3 separate regions of the Homo sapiens genome follow, and all the other regions are linked to region 3. Evidence: fine-mapped expression QTL. A gene starts in region 3. Each other region holds a variant in brackets. All regions are shown on one strand. Distances are between the middles of the regions. Region 1 has its middle 9.0 kb from the start of KRT2. Region 2 has its middle 19 kb from the start of MIR9898. Region 3 holds the start of KRT79 (keratin 79).

Evidence for each region. PIP is the estimated chance that this variant, and not a neighbour inherited with it, causes the effect.
Region 1: its variant is fine-mapped to the expression of KRT79 in whole blood (TOPMed, PIP above 0.99).
Region 2: its variant is fine-mapped to the expression of KRT79 in whole blood (INTERVAL, PIP 0.99).

The regions. Positions count from the first base shown.
Region 1 is chr12:52,659,863-52,662,620 of GRCh38, reverse strand. No RefSeq gene overlaps it. Among named protein-coding and RNA genes, the nearest start is that of KRT2, 9.0 kb to the right of the region's middle. The variant G/T (reference allele first, on the strand shown) is at 1,450.
Region 2 is chr12:52,878,408-52,881,165 of GRCh38, reverse strand. No RefSeq gene overlaps it. Among named protein-coding and RNA genes, the nearest start is that of MIR9898, 19 kb to the left of the region's middle. The variant G/T (reference allele first, on the strand shown) is at 1,205.
Region 3 is chr12:52,833,024-52,835,781 of GRCh38, reverse strand. KRT79 (keratin 79) reads left to right here and starts at 1,471. Exons shown (of 9, transcript NM_175834.3): 1 at 1,471-1,998. The coding sequence starts at 1,522.

The sequences.
Region 1 (2,758 bases), 170 kb after region 3:
AATCTTTGCATTGGGAACAGGGAATTAGGTGAATGAGGGTGGGGAGGGCAGAAGTGGGGCTCCCAGAAGGATGTGGTTTCTGAGTACGTTGGGCCAAGCCTTATCACCACTCGTCTTGTGATCTCAGGCAGGTCTCTTCACTCTCTCAGAGGCTCAGTTTGGTCATGTGTGAAATGAGATAACATTTGCCCTAATTACTTCAGAGGGAGAGTGTCAAAGTGAAATGACACATGCAACAGGGACCTGAAGTAATACATGAAGGGAGCGATCATCAGCACTGCTGCTCTTCCTTGAGAAGGCACCCAAGGGTGGGAGTGGGATGGGGCCAACGAGCAGCGGTGCAGCCTGGGTACGCAGGAAGGACTGCTTCCTTGGGGGCCAAAGTGGGGTCCTATGCTTCATTCTTTTAAAAGAAATACCCATTCATGAAGGGAGGGCTTATATCCTAAATCCATGGCCACTGGCCTTGTAATGAATGGCCACTTAGTGCCTGAGCAGGGAGCAGCGGACCACCAGTTGGGAGCAGGACCGGAGACAGCGGGGGAGCTCCAGGGCATAGGGTTAGGGTGGGCTTGTAAGCTAAGGAAAGAGGTGCATGATCAGGTGGCAAGATGCAGGCTAGGAGATTGTGGCAATAACATAAAATCGACGTAATGTTGGAAGTTCTAGACACTTACTATAACTTCTACAGATAATGCGAAAGGAGAAATATTTGCTTTGTGCTAGAAATTGTGCTGTGTCACATAAATCACTTATTTCACAGCAACTCTGAAGTACTACTGTTGACCTGTGAACAACCCAGATTTGAACTGCACCACTCCACTTATATGTGAATTCTTTTTCAGTAAATATGTTGGAAAAATTTTTGGAGATTTGTGACAATTTGAAAAAACTTGAAGATGAACTTGTATCCTAGAAACATAAAAAAATTAAAAAAAAGTTAGGCATGTCATAAATGCATAAAATATATGTAGATACTAGTCTATTTTATCACTTACTCCCATAAAATATACACAAATCTGTTATGAAAAGTTAAAATTTATCAAAATGTGTGCACACACGGACTCTACATAGTGCCAAAGTCAAGAGAAATGTAAGCAACTGTAAAGGTGCATTATTAAATCATAACTGCTTAAAATTAACTGTGATACATATGTGCTACTGTAATCATTTTGTAGCCACCTCCTGTTGCTACTTCAGTGATCTCAGGTATTGCCATTAAAACACTGTGTGATGCTAGTCATCTCCACAAGAGCAATTAGCTCCCCCAGTAAATTGCTTATAGCAGTAAAAAGTGATCTCTGGAGGTTCTCGCATATTTTTCATCATGTTTAGTGCTTTACAGTAAACCTTGAATAACACCATGGGACCCATGCAGAGTGGCACTAGTGATGCTGGAAGTGCTCCCAAGAAGCAGAGAAAAACCATGACATTACAAAAAAAAAAGCT[G/T]AATTGCTTGATATGTACCGTAGATTGAGGTCTGCAGCTGCAGTTGCCTGCCATTTCTGACATGATAGATAATTCATCTTGCAAACACATGATGTAAGCTTATGGTATTGATAGATACAGTACAGTACTGTAAACGTGTTTTCTCTCCTTATGATTTTCTTAACAACATTTTCTTTTCTCTAGCTTACTTTATTGTGAGAATACAGCAATAACATATATATAAAACAAACAAAATATATGTTGACTGCTTATGTTATCAATAAGGCCTCTGGTGAGCAGTAGGCTAATAGTAGTCAAGTTTTTAGGTAGTCAAAAGTTATATTGAATTTTCAACTGCAAGAGGGGTCATGCCCCCTAACCATTCGGTTGTTAAAAGGTCAACTCTACTGTTACCACCACTTTACAGATGAGGAAATGGAGGCCACAAAAGGGTAGGTAACATTTCCAAGGCCAAGAGGCCAATAAGTGGTGGGGCTGGGATTCAACCCAGGTGTGTTGGACAAATCCATGTCCTTAACCAGTACACAGGCGGCCTTTGCTTGTTACAAGGCACCATGCAAGGATAATTAATTGTGATATTAGGTTGGTGCAAAAATTATTGTGGTTTTGGCTATTACTTTTAATTACATTACTCAGCTTTTCTTCCTAAACAGAAGATCCCTCTCAATGTTTTCTCTTGGGATACTGTAGTCACTTTTTATATGAGGACAGAAGGCAAAGAAAAGACTCAGGGGACAGGCAGAGGGCCCAACAGCCCAGTGTTGGAAAGCCTGGGTTTTCCACCAGGGTAGAGCAGGGCAGGTCTGCCTTGAACCTGGCCTCAGAAGCTTCCTTCTCAGTCCTCTTTCCTTCCATCAGCCTGGGGAGAGTGATGAGGAGCTGTGCCCCCTGGTCCTTTGAAGGGACCCTGGTCATCTCTGGCAGGGCCTGCTGCTCCCCATCAATGCCAGGCAAAGAGCTGAGTGCCATGCGCTGCTGCTGAAACACCAGTGAGGAAACATAAACTGGCGTCTCCCAACCTCATCATCAGGTCTCACCCCAGTCCTGCCCCTCCCTTGCCTGGCAGTGCTCTTTCCTCTAGCTCTCAGAGGAACCAGGGGGAGCCTGCTCACCCCTTGACAGACGATCGTTTGGGTTTTAGGACAAAGGCAAAGTCTGCTTTCCCAAGGTAATGTAAACAGCCAACCTGCTCTAGTATGATGCTCCTTGTTTTGCTGTTTGGAAAGCAGGTGTCCCCAAGAAGGGCCAGGATGCCAGGCAACAAGGCTGTTAGGTGGGTGAGGGAGTCTAGAAAGCTCCTGCAAGAGCA
Region 2 (2,758 bases), 45 kb before region 3:
GGGTGCAGTGGCTCATGCCTGTAATCCCAGCACTTTGAGAGGCAGAGGCAGGCAGATTGCGTGAGCTCAGGCATTTGAGACCAGCCTGGGCAACATGGCTAGACCCCATCTCCACCAAAGGAAAAAAAAATTGCTGGGGCCGGGCGCAGTGGCTCATGCCTGTAATCCTAGCACTTCGGGAGGCCGAGGCGGGCAGATCACTTGAGGTCAGGAGTTTGAGATTAGCTCGGCTGACATGGTGAAACCCTGTCTTTACCAGAAACACAAAAAATTAGCTGGGTGTGGTGGCACACACCTGTAATCCCAGATACTCAGGAGGCTGAGGCAGGAGAATCGCTTGAAGCTGGGAGGCAGAGGTTGCAGTAAGCCGAGATCACGCCATGGCACTCCAGCCTGGGTGACAGAGTGAGACCCTGAGACACACACACACACACACACACACACACGCCCGGGGGTGGTGGTGCATGCCTGTGGTCCCAGCTACTTGGGATCACTTGACTGGGGGCGGGGGTTGGGGGGGTATGCCAAAGTTTGCATTGAGCAGAGATCGTGCCAGTGCACTCCATTCTGGGTGACAGAGCTAGACCTTGGCTCGAAACAGACAAACAAAAAGCCAAAAAACAAAACAAAAAAAACAAACCCAAAACACACAAAACAAAACAAAACAACCTGTCCTGAACAAAATCAAACAAGCCACAGGAAACACAGCAGAGAGACCGAGGCCAGAGAGGCAAGGCTCGCCTTGATTCCTGCAGCATAAGAACCTGAGCCAGCACAGAGGGGATTGAGGTGCAGCTGATTAAAGGGGCAAAATCTCCAACACCAGCTTCTGCCTTCATTTCTAGACTTTGAGAATCCAGTATTGGCACTGGGGGACAGTGCTGTGCTGGGGACCCAAGGGACACAGAGAAGCGTGGGCAGCCGTAGATTATCCTCTTTCCCTGCAGCCTGCTGTCAGCCTGCTTGAACTTCTGAAGAATGGGCACCAAGACGGCTAGGATTGACCGAAGCGGGATGGATTTGTGCAAACCGGAGAGACATCAGACATCCACTAGGAGGCAGCAGAGGAGCAGGGAAAGAAACTGCTCTCCCGGCTTCTGGAAGCCGAGCCTGCACACCCTCCCACCCCCTCACTACATCCTCCCTATCCCAGGAGGCTGACTTGGGAGGTTGTTGGGTTGCAGGCCACCACTAACCGACAGGG[G/T]GGCTTTGTGCAAATCAGAGGAAGCTCCCATCCTCATGGGAAATGTAGGCTAGGGCATGACTTGGTGAGCGGAGCTTGGGGTGGATCAGTCCACGTCCTCCTATGCCCTGTGCCCTTGGCAACGCAGGGGCCATGGTGGGGGGTGGGTGGGGGGAGCTGAGGGCGGAGGGCACTGAGGAGCAGGGTGAGACAGGCGTGCTGCTGCTGGTGTGCCCTCCACTGCACTGTGTACTGGAGGTTTGAGTGCCGGCGCGAGGCAGCAGGGGCTCCCCGCAGAGGGCGCCACATTGCCCCGCGCTAGCTCTGCGCCGGCTCCGGCCTTTCCAGCAGGTGGCGGGTTCCACTCTCTGTCCTGGAGACTGCTGAGGCCCTCGCGGGAGGTCCACGCCTGCACGGGCCTGGGGGCAGAAGCGCGTGGGCAGGACCCAGGAGGACAGGCAAGCCGGCAGCAGACAGGCCCCAGGAGAAAGCAGCCGCCTGTGAGCCAGCGGCTCCGAGGTGCAGCACGCTGTCGTTTTGGAGGCTCAGAGAGGGGAGTTGGGCAGCATCGGGCAGAGCCAGGGTGAGAACTTCCGTGTCCTCACTCTCAGTTCAGTGCGCCTTCCTCCACAGCACTCCTTCCAGTTGATCCCAATCATGTCCCAGCCTGGCCCAAACCCTTCCTTGGAGACACACAAGCCCCTGAGCTTGGCACTCCAGGCCCGCCTGACCCCGCTGAAGTCACCTCTGCCGTGGCCTTCCACTCAGGCAGCTGAATCCCCTGGGGGTTCCCTGAGGAAGTCGCACCCCCTCACACCCTTAGCCCCTGTGCCTGCTGTCCCCCTGTCTGCAATGCACCTCCTATGGCTGACCCATCCACTTGTGAGCCTTTCATCTTCCCAATTTAGTTAGGATTTCCTCCTCTGGAAGCCGTCCCTGCCCCTCCGAGGCTGGGCTCCCCCTACCCTGTGCTACCCCACAGGGCCCTTCTCACCACACCACAGCCTCCCCAGCAGACGGTGAGCTTGGCCAGGGCCCAGTCTGACTGGAATGCTTCTGTATCCCCGTGCCTGGCACAGAGCAGATGGTTGTAAATATCTGCTGTTAAATGAAAGAAAGGCCTTACTACATTCCCTCCCCACCCTCTGCAGCGGCAGCCTTGCCATCATGGAGGGAAGACACGCAGGCAGGGGGCTGTGGGTGTGTGCATGCGTGTGCGCGTGTGTGTACTGTCAGGTGCACATATGGAGGGCCTCAGGCACCAGAGACAAGGAATAATTCCTATGGGAGATTGTATGTGCATAGGCGCAGACAGGTACAGACAGGCACAGACAGACATGTGCACACCAACCCAGAAAGATGTGGAGCTTCATACACACGGGGAGATTTATTTAAAACAAAAACAATTTTCATGGAAGTGTAACATACATAGAGAGAAGTACTCAAGTCATAAGTCTACAGTGTGATGAAGTTTCACAAACTGAACAGATCATGCTACCAGCACTCATGTCAGGAAGCAGAGCAGAGTCAGCCCCCAGAAGTCCCAGTGAGAGCTGCATTTTTTTTTTTTTCCAG
Region 3 (2,758 bases):
TGGGTTCAACCTCTTCAAGCAACGGGGAGCCACTTACAGCCTCCCAGGGGCCCTAGGAGAAGATCCCACAGCTCCCTCTGGTCCTGGAGCAGGCTGTCTCTTCACTTGCTGGGCTGTGGGGAACATGGGAGGGAGGCCAAGCCTTCTCCGTGGCAGTCCCATGTCCTCTCTGTTGGGATCCTGGGGACACAGCCTGGCTGGTTGTCCTGCTCATCTGATGGGGGTGGGGAGCACAGCGATGCTGTCCTCGCTCCTTTTTTTCAGGCAAGTCTCTGTTCACTTTGAGCCCATCTTCTTGCTGAGAGAAGGGGGTGGGGAGGGCCAGTGTCTAAAGTCACCTCCTCAGTCACCCCTCGGCCCTGACAGTTGACGTCTCTGTCTTTGCTTGGGGCTGTGTTTGGTCCCAGCAGACTGAGGTGAATAGGAAGTGGGCGGCGGGGACCATATGAGGTGATTTAAGGAGCTCCCCTGGCCCCTCTGAATCAGAAACATGGGCTCCTGCATGTGGGGCAGGGGAAGATGGGAGTGACGGGGCTGCTGCGTGGGCCTCCTGGGGCTTTTTTGGAACACCTGCTTTTTGGAGCTGTGCCTGTCTCCACCCAGGGTGGTCTGTGTCCTTGACCCACCTCCAGCTCCCTCCAAAGTGGCTGAACCTTTCTGTGGGGACTCTGCTGTGGGGTAGAGGCTCAGGGATCTCAGGTATTGGTTAAATCCCCTGCCCTCTCTTCAGCCTCCATAAGAATGTCCTTTGCTCCCAGGCTTCTGGGCCCTGCCTGAGGACCCCAGGCCTTTTCTACCTCCTGATCAAGGGCCTGGGCCCCACGATTGGGCAGGGATCCTCTTTCTGTCCTTGAATTCACTTTGCCAGCATAGGCTCACTTCCCAGAAGGCTCTGCCACTGTACGGCAGAGGCACAGGCTATCCCCACTCTCGCCCTGTCACCTGTGTCACACACCCTGGACCTGGGAGGAGTGGTGGGCCGTTGGCTGGGGGTGGGATGGGAGCAGGCCTGGATGCTCTCTCTGGCAGCCCATTGCCCAATGCTCCTTCTCCTACCACCTGTACAGCCCCAGGCCCTGCAGCCTTGGCTTACAACAGGGGCCTGGGACAAACCCCGTAGAACAGAGCCCTATTGACAGTGGCCTCTGGGGCTGGGTGGGAGGACAGCAAGCCAGCCACTGGGTGGTGGGGGTGGCCATGGGAGCCCGTATCATCCTGTGCCAACCGAGGAGAGCCTGGGGGCAGGGGGAGAAGGTGGCATCCTGCCCCAGACAGTCTCGGCTCAGCCCCAGCTCTGGAGCACAGGTGATAACCGGGAGGGCCCCTCCCTCCTGCTTGGGGAGAGGGCACTCCCCGTGGCCCTAAGGACCCCTCCCTCTCCCCTTGGGGCGATGGGGCAGGAGTGTCTGTGGAGCTGGGGAGCCGGCCCAGTTGGGAAAAGATAAAAAGCCCACAGTGGCCCAGCAGCTCACGGCACTCCCTTCCTGCCCTCTCATCCTGCCCTCCGGCCCCTCTGCAGCTATGAGGTCCTCCGTCTCTCGGCAAACATACTCCACAAAAGGGGGCTTCAGCTCCAACTCTGCCAGCGGAGGGAGTGGGTCCCAGGCCCGCACCAGCTTCAGCTCAGTGACGGTGTCTCGGAGCAGTGGCAGTGGTGGCGGGGCCCACTGTGGCCCCGGCACAGGTGGCTTTGGCAGCCGAAGCCTCTATAACTTGGGGGGCCACAAGAGTATCTCTGTCAGTGTGGCCGGAGGGGCCTTGTTGGGGCGGGCTCTGGGGGGCTTTGGCTTTGGCAGCAGGGCATTTATGGGACAGGGGGCTGGCAGGCAGACGTTTGGGCCTGCTTGTCCTCCTGGGGGGATCCAGGAGGTCACTGTCAACCAGAGCCTGCTGACCCCCCTCCATGTGGAGATTGACCCCGAGATCCAGCGAGTGCGCACTCAGGAGCGGGAGCAGATCAAGACCCTCAACAACAAGTTCGCCTCCTTCATCGACAAGGTGGGCCAAGCAGGAAGGAGGAAGGGAGCTCTTGGGGAAGAAGCGGGACCTCTAATAGAGGGTGGGCTGGGCCAGGGCTGCTGTAGCCCACTTGTACTAGGGTGGTGGTTGATAGAGCTCTGGAGCTCTCCCGGTCTGAGCCTGGGATGCCGAGACGTGGGTGGCTGGAGGCGGCCTTCAGGTCTTCACCGTGCCTGTGCGGGGGGAGTCTCCAGTCTACTCATGAGTCCGGTTTGCCAAGTCCACCTTGCCCGTGTTGAAGCCTGTCCTACCACCATGATTAATACGATTGATTGCACAGTAGCCTTACCTCATCATCAAAAAATGGATTGTCCTCATAGCTCCTCTTAGTGGGGTGGCCTGCATTGCCTTTTGTCATTTTACAGCTGGGGAAACAATGCTCAGGAGTTGAAAGAGTTGTTCAAGGCTAAGAGCATGGAGCCCTGTTTGTTCCATTCTTTCAGGCTTGGAGGAGGCTTAAGGGCAAGATGTGATCAAAACACAGTTGTGTGTGGGTGGGGTCCTAGGGGTAGGCTCCCTTCCGCTTCTCCTTTTTTTACACTCTGAGTGAAGAAGCTCAATTTGGGGTGGACAATGAGGAGGGTGGTCACCAGGTCACCAAGCTCTGGGAATGTGGAATTTGACCTGTTGCCCATAGGCATGCCCTGAACCTTGCCCTTGCCTCCAGATGGATGGGAGCAACACTTGTGCTGGGATTTCCTGGTCTGTTTCGCTGGCATTGTCCACCTCGATCCTGAGC